Linked DNA regions of Homo sapiens. The protein of the gene in region 1 purifies or fractionates together with the protein of each later gene. This does not show direct contact. Each region holds a gene or a part of one and is shown in the gene's direction. Other genes may lie near its edges. The genes, in order: PHIP, UBXN7 and NUMA1.

The links.
Region 2: the proteins of PHIP (region 1) and UBXN7 purify together in Homo sapiens (affinity purification with mass spectrometry; 2 studies listed by BioGRID). This does not show direct contact.
Region 3: the proteins of PHIP (region 1) and NUMA1 purify together in Homo sapiens (affinity purification with mass spectrometry; 2 studies listed by BioGRID and IntAct, with this or other methods). This does not show direct contact.

The regions. Positions count from the first base shown.
Region 1 is NC_000006.12:78,935,111-78,942,423, reverse strand, and holds part of PHIP (PH-interacting protein), read left to right. Parts: intron 1-1,093; coding exon 1,094-1,731; 3' UTR 1,732-6,891; coding exon of another isoform or gene 6,892-6,963; 3' UTR 6,964-7,313.
Region 2 is NC_000003.12:196,422,222-196,429,534, reverse strand, and holds part of UBXN7 (UBX domain-containing protein 7), read left to right. Parts: intron 1-7,313. UniProt on the Homo sapiens protein: Ubiquitin-binding adapter that links a subset of NEDD8-associated cullin ring ligases (CRLs) to the segregase VCP/p97, to regulate turnover of their ubiquitination substrates.
Region 3 is NC_000011.10:72,007,230-72,014,542, reverse strand, and holds part of NUMA1 (nuclear mitotic apparatus protein 1), read left to right. Parts: coding exon 1-1,648; intron 1,649-2,100; coding exon 2,101-2,142; intron 2,143-3,688; coding exon 3,689-3,757; intron 3,758-5,155; coding exon 5,156-5,275; intron 5,276-5,357; coding exon 5,358-5,576; intron 5,577-5,697; coding exon 5,698-5,855; intron 5,856-6,342; exon of another isoform or gene 6,343-6,397; coding exon of another isoform or gene 6,398-6,451; exon of another isoform or gene 6,452-7,107; coding exon 7,108-7,313. UniProt on the Homo sapiens protein: Microtubule (MT)-binding protein that plays a role in the formation and maintenance of the spindle poles and the alignement and the segregation of chromosomes during mitotic cell division.

The DNA.
Region 1 (7,313 bases):
GCAACCTCCGCCTCCTGGGTTCAAAGGATTCTCCTGCCTCAGCCCCCTGAGTAGCTGGGATTACAGGCACCCACCACCACGCCCAGCTACTTTTTGTACTTTTAGTAGAGACGGGGTTTCGCCATGTTGGCCAGGCTGGTCTCGAACTCCTGACCTCAGGTGATCCGCCCACTTTGGCCTCCCAGAGTGCTGGGATTATAATCGTGAGCCACTGCACCCGACCAACCATGATTTTCTTATTTACAAAGTACAGTTCCAACCTGTGACCAAAAATGCTGTTATGAAGATGTATTCTCTTTAAAAGCAGTTTCCATCTATGAATTTCCTCAAAAATAGAGCATTGCAAATCACCTACCATATCAAATAAAAACATGTCAGAAATTTGGAGGGAAAGAGAGTTAGTTACTGGTAGTTCCTGTGGCATATTTTTCCTTTATCTAAGTTATAGCATTTTTTTCTACAACAGAAAGGTAATTCATCATCTCCAGATCCTTCAGGTTTAGAATTTGATTGCCAGATTTTCTCTCCTGTTTTATGAAGCATAATGGCCTTTTATCATGGAGTTTGTTACAGTGGGATCTTAATCATGATAATGGTGGCACACATAGTGATTTTGATTGATATATATATATAATCAGTATTTCCTAGGATTATAGTCATTTGCCATTTATTACACAAGGAGATAGGACTTTTCAAAGCCTGTGAAAACTGCCATTTAGTTGTTTTTAAATCCTCTTTAAACAGTTCTAAGAACAAAGTTTTTGACCAAGAGTAACTTATTTCTAAGTTAGGAATAAGAAACCTTTAGTCATCCCAGCTTTATACTCAATCACAATGTTAACTTAGATAAGTCACTTATTTTCTATGAGCTTTACCTCCCTCATGAGATCGTTAAGAATCTGTCTCTTTTAATTAGAAAATAAATAAGATCATTGAACTATTAGTGTTTTCTAGGTTCTTTTTTCTCATTTTAATAAAATAATTTGGATTATGTCATTACATATAAGTATACCAATGGGGCCTTACTGACAAGTTTGAGAGTCAAACAAAAAAAGAAACTCCATATATTAAGTGTACTGTTGTTCCCTTTTAGGAGATTGTAAGAACAACGCTCTTGTACCAGGAACCATTCAAGTAAATGGCCATGGAGGACAGCCATCAAAACTTGTGAAGAGGGGACCTGGAAGGAAACCTAAAGTAGAAGTTAATACCAATAGTGGTGAAATTATACACAAGAAAAGGGGTAGAAAGCCCAAAAAGCTACAGTATGCAAAGCCAGAAGATTTAGAGCAAAATAATGTGCATCCCATCAGAGATGAAGTACTTCCTTCTTCAACATGCAATTTTCTTTCTGAAACTAATAATGTAAAGGAAGATTTGTTACAGAAAAAGAATCGTGGAGGTAGGAAGCCCAAAAGGAAGATGAAGACACAAAAATTAGATGCAGATCTCCTAGTCCCTGCAAGTGTCAAAGTGTTAAGGAGAAGTAACCGAAAAAAGATAGATGATCCTATAGATGAGGAAGAAGAGTTTGAAGAACTCAAAGGCTCTGAACCCCACATGAGAACTAGAAATCAAGGTCGAAGGACAGCTTTCTATAATGAGGATGACTCTGAAGAGGAGCAAAGGCAGCTGTTGTTCGAAGACACCTCTTTAACTTTTGGAACTTCTAGTAGAGGACGAGTCCGAAAGTTGACTGAAAAAGCAAAAGCTAATTTAATTGGTTGGTAACTTGTACCAAAATATTTTACTTCAAAATCTATAAAGCAGGTACAGTTAAGGAATAAGTAGAACTAAGGCTTCTGCTTCCTTGCTGCTGTGGTGGAGTAGGGAATGTTATGATTTGATTTGCAAAAAAAAAAAAAAAAAAAAAAACAAACTTACGAGACACTTCACTTCTTTAAATGAATATATATATATATATATAAATATATACATATATATTTTAAATGTTTGCTATTTATTGCCCTTAGATAGGTTATGCATTTTCACATTCATTTCATTCACTGTTTGAAACGAAAGAAATTGATCTATAATGAATTCCTGATTTATTTATAGAAAAGACAATTCTGCTACACTCTTTAGGAGCATAATATTCCTAGTGATAGAGCATTTCATGTTAAAATGAATTATTTTTGACCAAGTGAGGTACATTTCTATTGATACAAGTCATGCCCCTAAAAGATAGATGTTATACAGAGTAGCAGTGAATTAAGAAATGTTTCCTCTAAAAGATAAATATAAAATTTCCACCATTTGATACCCTAAACAGTTTAATTTTAATTATAGAATGTTCATCTACAAAGTATCTAGAGGAGGCTTTTGCTTTATTCCATTTCTGCCAAACAAGAGAAAATGTACTGATGAAGGGAAACATATCCACATTGGAAAACATTTGACTGTCTAATTTTTCAGACCTTGATTCTTATATCACTCAATCTCTGTTTATTGTGCCAAAGACTGAGAATCAGTGCAGTGGAAAGCCTGTTTTTGACGTCAGGACAGCATACACTTTTCAATATTGGAAAGGCTATATATTCTAAAGAGCAAGTTATTAAAGAGTTATGCTGAGATATATCTTTTTTTGGTACTAATAGAAAATAATGCACTGGTGGGTCCTTTGACAGAGATGTTCTAGAGGAAATGTTTAAGTGGTTAAAGGATTCAAGGAAAATACAGGAAAAAAGGTATGGGATTTGATGTTTACTTGTTGATCTGGATTAATGTCATTTCTAAACTTTAGACATATCTAATAGCCTAAAATGACTTACAAAGAAACGTGTCTGTGTGTGTATGTGTATATATTGATAAATGGGTATAATTAAATATATATACAAACACATACTTATATACTATTACCCAGGTATAAATTCTTTTTTCAGGATTTTTTAGATAGCAGTAGAATAAAAATAATTTTAAAATGTCATACTTTATAGTTTAATTTTAAGGGGGAAATTGGTTATTTTCAATTATTAAAGGTTAAAATAGGCCAAATCACTTTTTATGCAATCATGTTTTATACAGTGGTCTCATTGCACATTGTGTTTTTTCTGCACTTTTTACGGTATCCTTATCATGCTGGTATGTCAATATACACCCTAAAGAAAAACTCCATTTAATGATTGTGCCTTGTATTCTATTATTTTTTGCATCATTAGTAAAATTAAGTTGTCTATTGTAAATGATAACTATATGACTTAGGAGAATGTATTGCTATATGTACTGCTATGGAAAAGGAAAGCAGTTATTTATTTGTTTATGGTACAGTTAGTTATTTTATACCTTAAAAACCAACATACTTACCATTTCTATTGTTTAAAAATTACTGTCCATTTTTTTAAAAATTTAAAGAATGTAGTATTTTCTGAGGACTGGTATGGTACAAAAATGTAATCAAAATTTTCAGATACTACATTTTTAAAAAGTGAGGATGGGGAAAATATGTATCAGCATGACCCTGATGTAGAAAAATAAAGTCTGCAATTGAACCTTGGCAAAATACATTACATAATTATTTCTGATAAGGATAAATATTAGCTGTCATTTAACTGTCGTGAAGAATGAAAAAGTGATACATTTGGGCTTTTTAGATCATTTGTAACTAAATTTGTACAGAAATTCTCCTGTGAAATTAAGTAAACCATTTTCCAGATCTTGACTGCATTGCTGAGATTTTGCAGTTGAAAAATAATTTCAAATTTTTCAGGTTTTTTGTATATTTATTTTTTTCTAACAAATATATTTAACTATAAAATTAAAATTCAGTAGTTAAACTCTTCATAATGCAGAAATGGATGGCTTGATTGTATAGAAAAATGAGTCTTTCAGTTACACCATTCTTGAAAATAATAGTGTATGTTTGAAATTTGTCATTAATTAGTTGCTTTTGAAGGCAATCTATTTGAAATATGTAATTTCCTGATGTTATCTGCATTGTGTTAAGAAAAAAATAATAGGCTATAAAATCAATTTTTGTAAAAAAAATGTACAGTTTTAAGTTGTGTACAGAAAAAGGAAGAGCGTACACAGTCTTAGAGTGGAATATACCTCTAGTACAGTGTATGTGTTAATTCCAACTCAAGCAAAGAAATGAGTATTTACCATCTTTCCTATAACATGTAAATGTATTATTCCTGTTCTACAGACACTGTATATTTATGACCTTATTTGGACATTATTAGACACTGGTTTCTTAGTAAAGCACAGTAACTTGGATCAGATTCTTTGTAACCGAAACACTTAAACATGTATTAGTAATACCAATATATTTAGATTTTATATTTTTATAATTTAGCTTCTATGCATTACAGAAGTTGAATTAAGAAATTTAAGTCATCACCATATTTTTGTTTTCTTTACCACTTGGGAAAATAATCCTCTTTGAGGCAGTAACACTATGTATGTACTGTTAATAGGCCAGAAAGAAATATTGGCAGTTGTCTTAGGTAAGCAATAAAAACATCTCCAATTTACTGAAAGTTCAGAAATATAACTCTTACATGCATGGAAAGTGTAAACCAATTTAGGTATTTCTAAGTACCCAACCCTAGTATTCTCTCCCTCAACTCCAACATTCTCAAGTCCCAGATGAAAAGTTTCAGTGGAGCATTAGTTTAAATATTTAGTCTAATCAGAGACTCACAGCCCTGGGCAATAGATACATAGCTTTTTAAAATTTTATCCTTTGTGACCTGCTATAGTGGCATTGGACTATTTTCTGCATGTATTATAAACTAAAGATTGGCCTTATTTCAATTGTTTTTATTGCACAACTTCACTACAAATTTAAAGACTGCTGGCATTATTATAAAACTGTCTTCCTCCAATCCAAGTAAATAAGTATGTGGAATATTTGTGAGCTGGATTAGGTAACATCTGAGACTTGGGATTGACTAAATTTAGTTATCACTTGGAAATGAATTACATAAGATACAGTAATCAGAGAAAATATCTTTATGCAGCATGTATGTTAACATCTAGAACTGTCCCTCATCTGCAGTGCAGTAGAGGAATCAGACATTTTAAGAAATGTATTCAAATATTTTTATCTTATATGTTAGCAGCATTTACATGTTTTCAGATATGATTTGTAATATAAATTAATTTCTCCAGTTAACAATGTTTACTTCAATTCTGACATTCCATTTTATACATATATACCTACTGTATATCTCTCTCAAATGTCAGCTAGAAGCAACTTTTTCAGTTTTCTATCTAATGAAAACGGATATATTCTGAATGTTTTTGTTACCTGAAATTTATTTTTGAGTAGGTTGAAAGGACCAAGATACTTGAGTGATTAAAGGACTGTAAGTGTTCTGCTTATATGCAGGAGTTACATGATTTTAAAAGTCATAATAGGGGAAGTAGTTTTATCATCTGATTACTCCTATTAACCTAAAAAGTATTTCTAACATAACAGATTGAGCAGTGGTTTTGTTACACTTAGGCAAGAATTTATTTTCCCATTAAAATTTGAAAAATACACTTTTCTTTGCTTCTACCCTTGCAGTTTCCCTTAGTTCCCCTAATTTCCAAGTGATCTGAACTAAAATTAATATTACATTTACTAAGAAACTATTTTTGTTAATTATACTGAGCAAAGTTTGCTCCAAATGAAAAGTCATTACGAACTATGTATAGTACCCAAGAAAAGGTCAAATTGAGTCAGAAGACTGTAAGTACCACTTTTGGCGCTCCAGAGATAAACCTTGTACACACTGCAGTAGAACAGTGAGTAGAAAATATGAGCTATAAATAGATATTATTTTTAGTTTTGATAGCTCTGTGTTGAAATACTTTTTTAATGCAGATAAAAATTATCAGGAAATTAACCTTATGGCACAGACCAAATACTTAGTGCATGGCTGAGTTTCTACAATTCAAGGAGCCAAGAAAATAGGTTCAAGATGGAATATAGTACATGCATATAAGGCAGATGCACACATGCTGGTTACTTTAAGATTGTGTGTGTTGATTAGTCACAATGATAGACTATAACATGAGACAATACAAAGTTACATTTTTGGACCATATTAAAACTGCAAGAAGACAGGGGTCTTACTGAAGATCTTTTAGAAAACTTAAATCCTGTCACAGGATATTTAGACATGTGTAGAATGTAGCTCAATTTTTAAAAAGTAACTGACCTAGAGGGTGAAAGTTGAAACTGACACATTTTCAAATTAAGATTATGCTTATTTTGTACAGAAAACAATGTTTAAACACAAGCAGATCTGTTGTATGTAATAAGTAACACAGAGTTTTAAAACAAATTAATTATTTAGCTTTATTGAAGTTTGTTTTTTTCCTTCCGAACCTGGAGTATCATATTATAAACAGCAGTTTCACACCAGAATAGCAGTGCCCTTTCTTTTTGTACATACTGATTGGACCTTTCTTTACTGTTACGTGGACACTTTCTATGTTAGTTTTGATGCATAATTCTTTGAATCCTTTTATACAAACTAGAATGTATGTGTAAGAATACCTGTCCCTGCAATGTAGTAACTACAAACTTATTTTTAAATAAATAGAAAACTTGTTTTTCTAAGCTATTTTGTAGAGCCTCATGATTTATTATTTGCTTTTTAAAGTTTTTTGGCATCACATAAAGCACTTAGTACATAATCTCAACAAGCTGCTTACCAAAGTGGTCATATGGCAGATACCATTATGTAAATGCTGGTTCATTAGAGTTTCCAGTGCCCTGTGTGTTTTGCAAAGTGTGAAAACTGTCAGTTAAAAGATATTTGGGTGCCGAAATGTAATTTAATTCCAAAACAACTGAAGGTCAAAAACTTATATGCCTTTTTATGTGTACATTTAATAAAACAATTTTATTGATTTCTTACCGTAAGTTACTGTGATGAGTGATAAATACTTCACTATTCAGATACTTTCGTAAGAGATACATTTCAGTGGAACACTTTGCATAAATATTTTCTCAAAAATGTGCAATTTCTGGGAAAAAAGGAATGATGGAAAGAAGGTTATTGCAGTTTTCCTAGAAATTTTGTCAGATTGGCATGCATTTTTATTGACTAAGAATCCCAATTTTAGCATGAAGACCATTAGATATGAATACATAAGGCCATAACATTTCAAATTAAGCACATGGAGTGATTTGTAATTTTGTGTTAATTTCTCCCTAAGATGTTTTGTTAAAATGATTTTGTATATAATAAATTTCTAAGTTGAGGAAGGAAGGTAAAAAAAATTCCTGATAACCTTTTCTTTATGAAGTCTGCTAATAACAATACCTAGTATATACTTAGAAGAACCAGCCAAGAAAAATTACCTTTCAGCAACCA
Region 2 (7,313 bases), on another chromosome or scaffold:
TCAAAAATGTGAGTCCTTACTTTTTAGGCAGGAGCAAAAAAAAGAAAAAGAAAAAATAAAAATAAATGTGAGTCTTATCTTTTTTTGGCATTTAGAAATAGAACGGAAAATTGAAAGATTTTAGAAAAGTCTTATTTCTTACTGAATAGAACAGATCTCTCTCTGATTCAGTGAGTATGAAATAATGACTGATGTTTTTTTTTTTTTTGAGACGGAGTCTCGCTCTGTCACCCAGGCTGGAGTGCAGTGGCGTGATGTTGGCTCACTGCAAGCTCTGCCTCCCAGGTTCACACCATTCTCGTGCCTCAGCCTCCCAAGTAGCTGGGACCACAGGCGCCTGCCACCACGCCTGGCTAATTTTTTGTATTTTTAGTAGAGACGGGGTTTCACCGTGTTATCTGGGATGGTCTCGATCTCCTGACCTCGTGATCCGCCTGCCTCGGCCTCCCAAAGTGCTGGGATTACACGTGTGAGCCACCGCGCCTGGCCTAATGACGGATTTTTGATTTTTTTTTTTTTTTTTTAAGAGATGGAGGTCTCCTCTCTTTGTTGCCCAAGCTGTTCTCCAGTTTCTGGGCTCAGCCATCCTCTTGCCTCAGCCCTCCCAGTAACTGGGGCTACAGGTGCACATCACTGTGCCTGGTTCAGTAATGGCTGATTAAAAAAGATTATTAAAAAGACAATATCATAAAAACTTTTTTTTTTTTTTTTGAGACGGACTGGGTCTCACACTGCCACCCAGACTAGAGTGCAGTGGTGTGATCACGGCTCACTGCAGCCTCTAGGGTAACTTTCTTTATTTTTTGTGGAGATGGGGTCTCACTTTGTTGTGCAGGCTGGTCTTGAACTCCTGGGCTCAAGCAATCCACCCACCTTGGCCTCCCAAAGTGCTGGGATTACAGGCGTGGGACACTGCACCTGGCCGAAATAATTTTGATAAAAGGGAAAAGAACTAATTCTCCTTCTCACAACAGCAATATTTATTTTACATATTATCTTCCACTTCTTGTTTATATGCTTATTTTTACATTGTGGATCATAGTATATACAATTTCTGAGATTTCTTTTTCTTTTTTTTTTTTTAAAGACGGTCTTGTTCTGTCACCCAGGCTGGAGTACAGTGGCACAATTATAGCTTGCTGCATCCTTACCGCCTGGGCTCAAGTGATTCTCCTGCCTCAGCCTCCAGAGCAGTTAAGACTACAGGCATGTGCCACCATGCCCAGCTAAAATACACGGTTCTGAAATTTTCACTTAACATTATGCTACAAACCTTTTTTGCATGGTCAGACTGATAAGCAGGTAGCCAAGAGAAGTGATGACCTTTGAAGTAACCACACTGAGAAGCTGTATACAGTATGGTTTACCATTGATGCTTGCTTTTTGTTTGTTTTTGTTTTTGTTTTTGTTTTCGACAGAATTTCACTCCGTCACCCAGGCTGGAGTGCAGTGGCATGATTTCGGCTCACTGCTGTCTCCGCCTCCTGGGTTCAAGCAGTTCTCCTGCTTCAGCCTCCGCAGTAGCTGGGATTACAGGCTCAAGCCACCATGCCCGTCTGATTTTTGTATTTTTAGTAGAGATGGAGTTTCACCATGTTGGGCAAGCTGGTCTCAAACTGACCTCAAGTGATCTGCCCTCCTCAGCCTCCCAAAGTGCTGGTATTATGGGCGTGAGCCACTGCAACCGGCCCCACTGATGCTTTCTGTGTCATTTAAAGCTACATAAGAAAACCAGTCTTGTTACTTTTATAGTCATTCCACATTTTACAATACTACTGTTTGATCTCCTCTGATATTTATCATACATGGCTTTGAATTACTGTTGAAAACTCAGAAGTCATATCAATTCTCAAAACATGAAGGAAAAATATGCAGCTGGATCTATTCTGAAAGAGCAATTTTTAAAAATGTTTTGAAGCCAGGTGCGGTGGCTCACGCCTGTAATCCCAGGCACTTTGGGAGGCCAAGGCGGGTGGATCACCGGAGGTCAGGAGCTTCAGACCAGTCTGGCCAACCTGGTGAAACCCTGTCTCTCCGAAAAATACAAAAATTAGCTGAGCATGGTGGTGCACGCCTGTAGTCCCAGCTACCCAGGAGGCTGAGGCAGGAGAATCTCGTGAACCCAGGAGACGGAGGTTGCAGTGAGCCGAGATCCAGCCACTGCACTCCAGCCTGGGCGACAGAGCGAGACTCTGTCTCCAATTTTAGTATATGTGCTGCTGAAGCGAGCACAGAGCGAGACCCTGTCTCAAAAAAAGAAAAAGTAAATAAAAGTAAAAATGTTTTGAGCCATGGCAGTATTCCATTAGCACCAACTTTGGGCTGACATCCACTACACATATACACTGGTGCACATGTGTAATCAGAATAATTCATGGAGTGAAGGTGAGGGATACATAGACACTATAGAACAGGTGAAAAATAAGCTAGCAGTCTAAGGACAAATGTGAGGGCATAGAAAGTGGAGGCTAAGAAGAGTACAAGAGGTTACTGGTACGGAAATTCATAGAGCTTTGTGCATAGCGGCAATAACATACTTGAGAAAATTATAGAACCTCAGTTGTAGAAGAGACCTTAATCTTTCAGATGGTTGATGAGTGCATATTTATTATAAAAATTAGGGGCTGTCATGTTTGTGGTATTTAACTTTATGGCCAATTTCCATTCATGTTCTTTTTTTTTTTTTTGAGACAGAGTCTCACTCTGTGGCCCAGGCTGGAGTGCAAAGGTACGATCTTGGCTCACTGCAGCCTCCACCTCCCGGGTTCAAGCGATTCTCCTGTCTCAGCCTCCTGAGTAGCTGGGATTACAGGCATGCGCCACCACGCCCGGCTCATTTTGTATTTTTAGTAGAGACGGGGTTTCTCCATTTTGGTCAGGCTGGTCTCGAACTCCCGACCTCAGGTGATCCTCCTGCTTCGACCTCCCAAAGTGCTGGGATTACCGGTGTGAACCACCGCGCCTGGCCTCATTCATATGCTTTTGTACAGAACATTTCCTTTCTCTTGGGTTAATATTAAACTATGATTAAGTTCTCTGTGTCTGGAAAGGTGGTCACAGTATTATAGATGTTAAGAGAAAACTTCAGGAATTTTAAGAATAGTTTCAATAGGGAATACATTTCAGAATTTCTTTTTTTTTTTTTTTTTGAGACGAAGTCTTATCCTGTCACCCAGGCTGGAGTGCAGTGCTGTGATCTTGGCTCATTGCAACCTCCGCCTCCCCGGTTCAAGTGATTCTCCTGCCTCAGCCTCCTGAGCAGCTGGGACCACAGATGCGCGTCACGACACCCAGCTAAATTTTTTGTATTTTTAATGGAGATGGGGTTTCATCTTGTTGGCGAGGCTGGTCTCAAACTCTTGACCTCAGGTGATCCACCCACCTCAGCCTCCCAAAGCGCTGGGATTACAGGCTTGAGCCACCATGCCTGGCTGAAGTTTCAGAAATTTAAGGGAGGTAATTTTGAGTTGCGAATGGAATCTTACTAGTAGATTCATTTATTGGTAGACTGCTACGTGCCAGGCATGGTTCACATCTTAAGGATACAACTGTGAGCAAGGCGTGGTGTCTGTCCTCAGAAAGCTTAAAGGTTAACAGGAATAGAGACACACGAATAGGTATTAGAATACAGTGAGAGAATGGTAAGGAGCTAATACTGGAGCACAAAAGAGGGAGGTCAAGAAAACCTTCCCAGAATAAATACTTTTTTATCTAAAATCTGGAAGATGTTTCTTGCAGGAGAAACATGCAGAGACTTGGAGGGGAATTGGGCAGACATGTATACAGACAGAGATGAGAGAGGGGAGACAATCGGTTTAGGGAATTGATAATTCCAAATGAGTAAAGCACAGCTAGTGCAATAAATGGACCTCAAGAGATAAATGGGAGATTGGGTTGGGCCTTATAAGCCATGTTAAAAAAAATCTTGTCTTTATTCTGAGAATAGTGGGGAGTCAAGGGTTTTAATTAGAGGAGTGAGACTGGGCACTGTGGCTCACACCTATAATTCCCGCACTTTGGGAGGCTGAGGTGGGAGGCCTGGAGCTTGAGATCAGCCTAGGCAACATAGTGAGACCCCATCTCTACAAAATGTATTAAAATTTTATTTATTAAAAAAGGAGTTACATCTGATTTGACCTTTTTTTTTTTTTTAAAGAAAGAGTTACTTGGCTATAATGGAGAAGAGATAGGCACAGAGATCAGTAGAAGGCTGTTATATTAACCCAAGAAAGATAGTGGTGTCCTGAAAAAAGTTAGTGGCGGAGAAGTGGACTCCAAAAGGTATGGGAAGAAATCAGAGTCAAAATGAAGTTTAGGATTCTGTTTTGGACACCTAGGTATGTAACAGTGCTATTTATGAAGGTATGGAATAGCAGAAAGGTGTGGGGAGAAGATGGTTAGCTCAGTTTTGGATAAGTTAAGGTGCTGCTAATAGGACTTCCAGATGGAGCTGTTGAAGCAGATGAATATTTGGGTCTAGAAAGAAGAGTGAGAAATCTGTCATATTCATGGCAGTTAAAGTTATAAAAATGGGGCTAGGTGCGGTGGTTCACACCTGGAATCCCAGCACTTTGGGAGGCCGAGGCGAGTGGATCACCTGAGGTCAGGAGTTTGAGACCAGCCTGACCAACATGGTGAAACCCCGTCTCTACTAAAAATACAAAACTAGCCGGGCATGGTGGTGTGTGCCTGTAATCCCAGCTACTCAGGAGGCTGAGGCAGGAGAATTGCTTGAACCTGGAAGGCGGAGGTTGCAGTGAGCTGAGATCACGCCATTGCACTCCAGCCTGGGCGACAGCGAGACTCTGTCTCAAAAAAAAAAAAAAAAAAAGGTTATAAAAATGGATGAGGCGAGGCCTAGTGGCTCACACCGGTAATCCCAGCACTTTGGAATGCCAAGGTGGAAGGATTGCTTGAGGCCAGAAATTCAAGACCAGCTTGGGCAACATAGCAAAGAGCCTGTTTCTACAAAAAGTAAAAAAAAATTAACTGGGCCTGGTGGTGTGCACCTGTAATCCTGGTTGACTTGGGAAGATTGCTTGAACCCAGAACTTTGAGGCTGCAGTGAACTATGCTCCTGCTGCTATACTCCAGCCTGGGTGACAGAGAGAGACCTTGTCTCTTAAAAAAAAAAAAAAAAAAAAAAAAAAATTAGGAAAAGAGAAAGGATGGCATCTTGCAGGAGGGAGTGTAGTGTGGGAAATAGTAGACTCCAGGACACAATGCTGAAGGAACACCAACATCCGGGGGACTGCAAAGAAGAAAGTGCAGAGAAGACTCAGGAAAAACCAAAGATGTAGGAGGAAAACCAGGAGAGTATCATGGCACTTAAAGCATCAGGAGTGGCCACGTGTGGTGGCTCATGCCTGTAATCCCAGCACTTTGGGAGGTTGAGGCAGGTGGATCACATGAGATCAGGAGTTTGAGACCAGCCTGGCCAATATGGTGAAACCCTGTCTCCACTAAAAATACAAAAAATGAGCCGGGCATGGTGGTGGGCACCTGTAATCCCAGCTACTCGGGAGGCTGAGGCAGGTGAATCGCTGGAACCCGGGAGTCAGAGGTTGCAGAGAGCCAAGATCTTGCCACTGCACTCCAGCCTGGGCAAGAGAGTGTGACTCTGTCTCAAAAAAAAAAAAAAAAAAAGTGAAAAATTATTTTGTAAATGGAATAATTAGTCTCTAATTAGTCCTTTGTTTAGCTAACACAATTAGCTTCAAGATGGCTCTCTTCTGTCCCTGTGGTGCTTCAGAATCTTAGAGTTGATAAAATTCACATCCATGCAGGACTTTAAGTGCCCCAAGGTACTTTGGGTTTATCCACTCACCTTGTCAAGTGGATAAGTCAGATGGGGGTTGGAGGCCAGGCAGATAAGCAACTTGTCTCCAAGACTGGGATTGTCCTGCTATGCCCCACCTTATGCTCCCTGAGGCTCTGAGCTGAGTTTCAGGCCTCTGCCATGTCCCCACTCTTCCATGACCCAGCTCCACAGTTTCCCAAGGATACAGTGAAGCCAGCTGGCACCTAATGGTCAGGCAGGAGGGGAACAAGTACCCCAAGCCCCATCACAGCCAAGAAAAGAGGCACAGTGGCCAGGCCACAATCTGGAGCGGATGAGGGGGCCAGCTCCACAGAGGGTCCATTGGCCCACACAGGCACTGTCCACATGCTCCTCTCAGGGACCGGCTTGTTGGAGGGCTTGTTGCCAATGTTCTTATACGTGGTAGATACTCAGTAAATGTTTGCTGGCGTGGAAACACTTACATGTTGCGGTGACCTGCCAGTTTAGCCCACATGCCTGGCCTTCCGCCCTCCCCAGGGCAGCTGTGCCTCAGCCGCTTGTGGTAGAGATGATCCCCAGACCAGGTGGTGACTGGCCCCGCTAGGTTGGGCTGTTGTGTCCTCTGGTTATGGCTTGATCAGGCTGGCATGCAGCCAGGCGAGGACTTGGCGGGCTGGGCTGCCCATAGCCTAGTCTGTTTTTAGTCTCCTGTTTTCCAGAATGTCATGTAAGTGTAATCACAATATGTAACCTTTTGAGTCTGGCTTCTTGCTCTTAAACTATTGTGTTTGAGATTCATTCATGTTGTCATGGTTAGTAGTTCCTTCCTATTTATTGGGGAATAGTATACCATTGTATGGTTGTACTGTGGTTTGTTTATGCATTTATCAAATGAAGGACACTTTCCAGTTTGGGGACATTATAAATAAAGCTGCCAAAAACAGTCGTGTACAAGTGTGTGAATATCTTTTGATAAATACCTAGGAGTGTGTTTATTGGATCATATAATAATAGTTATATTAACTTTCTAAGAAGCTGACAAATAATTTGTGACTTTCTGGTATAGTGACTTTCCAAAGTCACTTTGGAAAGTATAGTGGCTTTGAGAGGCTGATGCGGGAGGATTGCTCTAGGCCAGGAATTTGACGCCAACCTGGACAACAAAGAGAGACCCCCACATCTGTATTAAAAAATAGTAATAAAAGAGAGTTCCAGTTGTTCTGCATTCTTTCCATCATTTGGTATTTTTAATTGTCTTTTTTTTTTTTCTTTTGAGACAAGATCTCATTCTCTTGCCCCTGGTGGAGTGCAGCCGTGTTATCATAGCTCACTGCAGCCTCAAGCTCCTGGGGTCAATAATCCTCCTGCCTCAGCCTCCTGAGTAGCTGGGACTACAGGCACACACCACCATGCCCAGCTAATTTTTAATTTTCTGTATAGATGAGGTCTCCCTGTGCTGCCTAGGTTGGTCTCAAACTCCTGCCTTGGTCTCCCACAGTGCTGGGGTTACAGGTGTGAGCCTCCACGCCTG
Region 3 (7,313 bases), on another chromosome or scaffold:
GCTGATGGAGAGCCAGGGGCAGCAGCAGGAGGAGCGTGGGCAGCAGGAAAGGGAGGTGGCGCGGCTGACCCAGGAGCGGGGCCGTGCCCAGGCTGACCTTGCCCTGGAGAAGGCGGCCAGAGCAGAGCTTGAGATGCGGCTGCAGAACGCCCTCAACGAGCAGCGTGTGGAGTTCGCTACCCTGCAAGAGGCACTGGCTCATGCCCTGACGGAAAAGGAAGGCAAGGACCAGGAGTTGGCCAAGCTTCGTGGTCTGGAGGCAGCCCAGATAAAAGAGCTGGAGGAACTTCGGCAAACCGTGAAGCAACTGAAGGAACAGCTGGCTAAGAAAGAAAAGGAGCACGCATCTGGCTCAGGAGCCCAATCTGAGGCTGCTGGCAGGACAGAGCCAACAGGCCCCAAGCTGGAGGCACTGCGGGCAGAGGTGAGCAAGCTGGAACAGCAATGCCAGAAGCAGCAGGAGCAGGCTGACAGCCTGGAACGCAGCCTCGAGGCTGAGCGGGCCTCCCGGGCTGAGCGGGACAGTGCTCTGGAGACTCTGCAGGGCCAGTTAGAGGAGAAGGCCCAGGAGCTAGGGCACAGTCAGAGTGCCTTAGCCTCGGCCCAACGGGAGTTGGCTGCCTTCCGCACCAAGGTACAAGACCACAGCAAGGCTGAAGATGAGTGGAAGGCCCAGGTGGCCCGGGGCCGGCAAGAGGCTGAGAGGAAAAATAGCCTCATCAGCAGCTTGGAGGAGGAGGTGTCCATCCTGAATCGCCAGGTCCTGGAGAAGGAGGGGGAGAGCAAGGAGTTGAAGCGGCTGGTGATGGCCGAGTCAGAGAAGAGCCAGAAGCTGGAGGAGAGGCTGCGCCTGCTGCAGGCAGAGACAGCCAGCAACAGTGCCAGAGCTGCAGAACGCAGCTCTGCTCTGCGGGAGGAGGTGCAGAGCCTCCGGGAGGAGGCTGAGAAACAGCGGGTGGCTTCAGAGAACCTGCGGCAGGAGCTGACCTCACAGGCTGAGCGTGCGGAGGAGCTGGGCCAAGAATTGAAGGCGTGGCAGGAGAAGTTCTTCCAGAAAGAGCAGGCCCTCTCCACCCTGCAGCTCGAGCACACCAGCACACAGGCCCTGGTGAGTGAGCTGCTGCCAGCTAAGCACCTCTGCCAGCAGCTGCAGGCCGAGCAGGCCGCTGCCGAGAAACGCCACCGTGAGGAGCTGGAGCAGAGCAAGCAGGCCGCTGGGGGACTGCGGGCAGAGCTGCTGCGGGCCCAGCGGGAGCTTGGGGAGCTGATTCCTCTGCGGCAGAAGGTGGCAGAGCAGGAGCGAACAGCTCAGCAGCTGCGGGCAGAGAAGGCCAGCTATGCAGAGCAGCTGAGCATGCTGAAGAAGGCGCATGGCCTGCTGGCAGAGGAGAACCGGGGGCTGGGTGAGCGGGCCAACCTTGGCCGGCAGTTTCTGGAAGTGGAGTTGGACCAGGCCCGGGAGAAGTATGTCCAAGAGTTGGCAGCCGTACGTGCTGATGCTGAGACCCGTCTGGCTGAGGTGCAGCGAGAAGCACAGAGCACTGCCCGGGAGCTGGAGGTGATGACTGCCAAGTATGAGGGTGCCAAGGTCAAGGTCCTGGAGGAGAGGCAGCGGTTCCAGGAAGAGAGGCAGAAACTCACTGCCCAGGTAAGGTACTCAGCCCAACCACCCTCCCAAAGATCAGGAGCTGAGAGCGCGGGGACATCGATCCTCTGTGTCCAGGGCCTCTAGCTCCTACACTGGAGTGTCTTGCCTTTCCTCATTCACTGGGTGGCAGAAAAGGAGAGGTGGCTGGTGGAGTTCAAGTCTGTTGCCCCTGTCATCCTAAAGAAAATGTCAGTGGCCTCCCCTCCCCTGAAGGCTCTGTCACTAGAGAGTCAAGTTGTGATGACCACCAGCCTGTTCAGAGGCACACCTGCACTGGATGCCTCAGGAGCCACTGGGGATTAGAATCAGCCTAACTGGCATTTTTAAACTTACTGTCAATCTAGCTCCTTAGGGGAAAGTATCAGAGCCTCAGTGAGGTCAGCCTGGCAGCAGGGCTGGTGCTTCTTTGGCCTCATCTCACTCTGTCTCTGTTGCTCCTCCCCCATGTACAGGTGGAGCAGCTAGAGGTATTTCAGAGAGAGCAAACTAAGCAGGTAATGCCTGAGGTCCTCGCTAAATGCTGGCTGCTTAAACGGTGACCAGTCTTGGTGCATGAGCCCGGCTGCAGCTTGCCTCCGCCAGCTCCTGTTGTGAACTGTTTGTGAAGGGGGCAGGGTCAAGCCATGGAATCCAGGCCCAGGCTGCCCAGGAGTGTGGTGTGCTGGGCTCTCTCAGGCCTCATCCCACCCATCCCAGGTCGGCCTCTCCACCCTTCTGCACCTTCTCTCATTTGCCTATCAGGGACAAGGGGTAGCACTGGCTTCATCTTTCCCACCCTGAACCAATGACAGACACAATCCTTGGGATTCGAGAACTTCCCAAGTACTGTGTCTAGTTAAGGATACCCGACTAAGAGGAACAGCAGAATTACCGTGTCGGCCTTGTTTAACATGGTGTCCCTTTTTCCCAGAGTACAGCTTTATGGAAGCCTTGAAGGTGATATGCGAGGCAGCCCCCACAGGTTAGGGAGGATTGTGGGCTTAGGACACTTGCCCATCACTTTCTGGGGCTCTAACCCCGAGCACAGCATAGAGATGTCTGTAGCAGGAAGACCGAGGGTGAAGGAGCAGGAGGGGTCTATACCAGATGGGGGCGGGGGAGTGGGGGTCACATGGTCTGGCTGCCTCTTTCTCATGGGAATCATCTCTGTGTTGCCTGAGACATCGAGGCTATAGAGCTGGTGTTTCTGAGACATCGAGGCTATAGAGCACCCTTTCTCCATCACTCTCCTACCCAGCCACCCCAGGGCTGCTGAAAAATTGGGCCCTCCTCTAAGGAGCCTGTGATAGTGGGGGACAATCAAAGTGAATAGCAAACAGTTAGCAATGGAGCCCTTGCCTCTCCCCTGTGCTGCCTGGTCATGCTTGAACTCCCAGAATGCTTGGAGCAGCCAAGGGTGCATGGGGCTGTTATGTTCTCTCTTTTCCCCTACTCCCTGTGCTCTTCCTCTTTGTAGGAGTGGGGTGGGCTTTGGAGTACATGTGCTGCCCCTGCTCTTGTCTTCCAGCAATCTGTTCCCCAATGCTAACCACAGCAGCCATGCTGCTAGCACCAGCCCTAACGGCCTGTGGATGTTGGGAAGAGGTCTGAGCATCTGTGGGCTTGGGCTTTGGCAGTTTCTGGGAGGGAGGCATGGGAATTCATTGAGTATGTCTACTAGAATTACAGACTAGGTCCTGGGAAGGTTGCGGCTGCAGAGTGTGGCGGCAGCAAGGTGGTGGTGAGGTGTCGGCTCCCCAGAGTCAATTCTCCTGATTTTGGAGGTGACGGGGGTTGGGCAGGCCTCTGTCTCTGCAGGCTCAGGGTAGACGCAAGAACAGTTGGCCCTGGCAACATCTATGTGTTAGGTTGCCTCATTCAGGCCCTGCCAAGCAGCCTGGGCAGCAGGCTGTTCCGTAATTGGAGGCCAGAGAAAGGGCCTGAGTTTATTCTAGGAACACTGGGGATCCTGGTCTGGGAAACCCCATGATGGGTGGACATCCAGGATGAACATCCAGGGGAAGTCCTCCTGAGTCTTCTGTCCTCCTCTTCCCTCCCCAGGTGGAAGAACTGAGTAAGAAACTGGCTGACTCTGACCAAGCCAGCAAGGTGCAGCAGCAGAAGCTGAAGGTGGGGCAGCTGGGGGAATGGGTCTGGCCTCTGGACAAGGGAGGGAAGCTATTCTCTAAGCTCTGGGGCCGTGGGGGGTGTCGGGGCAGAAGAGGGGCACCCTGCATTCCAGGTAGCCCTCCTAGGAAGCCTGTGGCTTAGAAGCCCCTGCATGTGTCTTCTGGGAGCTCTCGAGAGACAACCAGGGTGGTTCCCATCTCTCAACTGTCACTGTCCACTTCAGCAGCTACTAGTCACGTGTGGTTATTGAAATTTATTAAAGTAAATCCAGTTCTTCAATCACACTAGCTACACTGTGCCCCTGTTCAGTAGCTACATGTGGTTAGTGGCTGCTGTATTGGACAGCGCAGATACAGAACATTCCACCATTGCATAAAGTTCTTTTGGACAATGTAAGTCTAGATAGTCTGGGCAGGGAAAGAACGAGAGTGTCACCAGTGTTGAATATTACAGTGCAGTTTAATAACATTCTTAATGCTTTCAACTGTGTCACCTTCTTTGGTTTAATACTTGCTTTTTGCAGTTCTAGGCTTCACAGCCTTCAGTCAGGGGCAAAGGAATTGGGCACCAGTGGCATTGGGACTCACTAAAGCCCTGGTGGCTCCTAGGAGTTGTTGGGAGCTCAGAGCTTCATTTCTCCTGCTCACCTTCATACCATGGTGCCACAGCATGTCTTGATTGCAATAAACAAATGTTTATTCTACTCCTTGTGGGGCCTGTCCTATGTTAGGAGAGGCAAAGGGGGGATGCTTCTATCTACAGCAAAGCACTTGTTGGCCTTGCAGATGGACAGAGAATCAGGCCCTGCTCTTAAGGAGTTATGGTCTGGACAGGAGGCAGTGTGGGCATCATAAATAAGCCCCCATGGGCTTTTGGAGTTAGGTGGACCAAATCTTACTCTGCCATTTAGTCACTGTTACTCTGGTCAATTTGCTTAAATCTCTGAACTCAGTTTCCTCCTCTGAAAAGAGGGTGAAGTGACTTCTCAGAGTGGCTTTGAGGAGAAACAAGTTCCCCTGTCCTAAGAGAGCTCACATGCCAAGTGCCTTAGAGTAAGGCTCTGCACCTGGGTGTTCCCTGAGGATTGGTTCCCTTCCTCCTACGGGAGATTGTGCATGCAAAGAGGGTGTGACACTTTGTGTCTGGTCTCAAAGAAGGCAAAGATAGGGCAGGAGCTGGTCAGGGAAAGGCCACTACGGATGTGGACTGAAGGGCATGTGGGCTTCAGGTTTAGTAGACTGTAGTCGGGCAGAGAGTATTTGGGGTGGTGTGGTTTTCTTCCGCTTCCTAAGAAAGTGCAGGAGTCTGAAGCACCTGTGGAGCCCCAGTGGCTGGTGCAGATAAGCGGACTTGGGTAGAGCGGCCAGACCAGCTTTCCTGAGTGGCCTTTCTTCTCAGGCTGTCCAGGCTCAGGGAGGCGAGAGCCAGCAGGAGGCCCAGCGCCTCCAGGCCCAGCTGAATGAACTGCAAGCCCAGTTGAGCCAGAAGGAGCAGGCAGCTGAGCACTATAAGCTGCAGGTAAGGAGCCCAGCCCCAGCCCATGCCACCTTCCTCCTGCCCTTCAACCTCTACCCCACCCACCCACCCTCTCTGCCCACAGATGGAGAAAGCCAAAACACATTATGATGCCAAGAAGCAGCAGAACCAAGAGCTGCAGGAGCAGCTGCGGAGCCTGGAGCAGCTGCAGAAGGAAAACAAAGAGCTGCGAGCTGAAGCTGAACGGCTGGGCCATGAGCTACAGCAGGCTGGGCTGAAGACCAAGGAGGCTGAACAGACCTGCCGCCACCTTACTGCCCAGGTGCGCAGCCTGGAGGCACAGGTAAGAATTTGGCTGGCAGACTCACCTCACTCCTATTCCACTGGACCCCTGTGCCCTCTCCTCCTAGGCCACTGCTGCCTTAGGCTTTTCTTCACTCTCCCCCTGGCCCTCTCCTTCTCAGGTTGCCCATGCAGACCAGCAGCTTCGAGACCTGGGCAAATTCCAGGTGGCAACTGATGCTTTAAAGAGCCGTGAGCCCCAGGCTAAGCCCCAGCTGGACTTGAGTATTGACAGCCTGGATCTGAGCTGCGAGGAGGGGACCCCACTCAGTATCACCAGGTCAGGAGGCAGCCTTCCTCCCTATGTCTGTTTATGGAGTGCCTGCTGTTTATCAGGCTGTATCCTAGTGAGATAAATAAGATGTGATCTAAATTTATTCTTAGAGAAGAATAACGAAAAACGGGTATTATACCAGATATCTATTTAGGGCACAGTTGGAATAAAAAGCAAGTGGTCAAGAAAGGCTTCGTGGAAGCTATCGCTCCTGCTGAGTCTTGAAAGCATCCATAGGTGTGTGTGCCAGGTTGACGAGAAGAGCAGTGTGAACAGAGGCTGTGAAAGAGCCTGACTAAGCTGAGATGTGAGGCCAGGAAGGCCCATTGGAGACCGACTATTAAGACTTGATCCTAAAGGCATTGAGGAAACCTTGGTGGCTGTAATTGAAAGGTTTAGGAGAAAAAAAAAGGAACCTTGGAAGAATTTGAAACTGAAGAGTACATGGTTAATTTGCATCTTAAAAAGATTATTCTAATAGCTAGTATAGAAGTTAAGACTGGAAAAATGTTTTTATTAAACACTTACATTTACTTATTTTGTGCTAGACATAAAGCACTCATGACAATTATACCTGATTTGTCCCCCAACAACCCTCTGAGGTAGGTTTATTCTGTCTCCTTTAACAGATGAATCTGGGGCATAGAGGGGCAGTCACTTGCCCAAGGTTCCCCAGTGGTAGAGCTGGGGTTTGACCCTGGGCAGCCTGGCCTGAGTTCTTGGCTTGTCACCACTCATCTTCCTCTGTCAGTGCCATGATGAGTCTAGGTGAGAGGAGATGAAGCAGACCAGGGAAAGGACATGAGCATGGAGTGGGGTGTGGTTAGGAGCTGTTCAGGAAGCTTGGTGATTGGGCTCGCCAAGCAGGACGACATTGGATTATGCCCACGTTCATGGCTTGGGGGCCTGAGTGGGGGGCGTTCCTATTCACTGAAATGGGAGATGCAGGAGGAAGAACAGAGAAGTGGGCTTAGATTGGGACGTGTTTGCTGTGAAGCAGCCATGGGCATCTGGTGGGGATGGGACATCTGGGTCTGGGCATTGCCACTATGAGGAGCTATTAGGAGAAGCCAGGGGAGTGGACTGAAAGGAAGGCCCAGGTCAAGTGCTTTCCTTGGTACCTCTGAAAAATCAGAGAGATGGGCTGCTTGACCTCATCTGCTTGTAGTAAGGATGGGAAATGGTCACTTTCAAAAAGGGCTGGACAAAATGCCTTCTAGCGTGAAGGACTGTACCTCAGCAGGTTTCCTTTCCATAGCAAGCTGCCTCGTACCCAGCCAGACGGCACCAGCGTCCCTGGAGAACCAGCCTCACCTATCTCCCAGCGCCTGCCCCCCAAGGTAGAATCCCTGGAGAGTCTCTACTTCACTCCCATCCCTGCTCGGAGTCAGGCCCCCCTGGAGAGCAGCCTGGACTCCCTGGGAGACGTCTTCCTGGACTCGGGTCGTAAGACCCGCTCCGCTC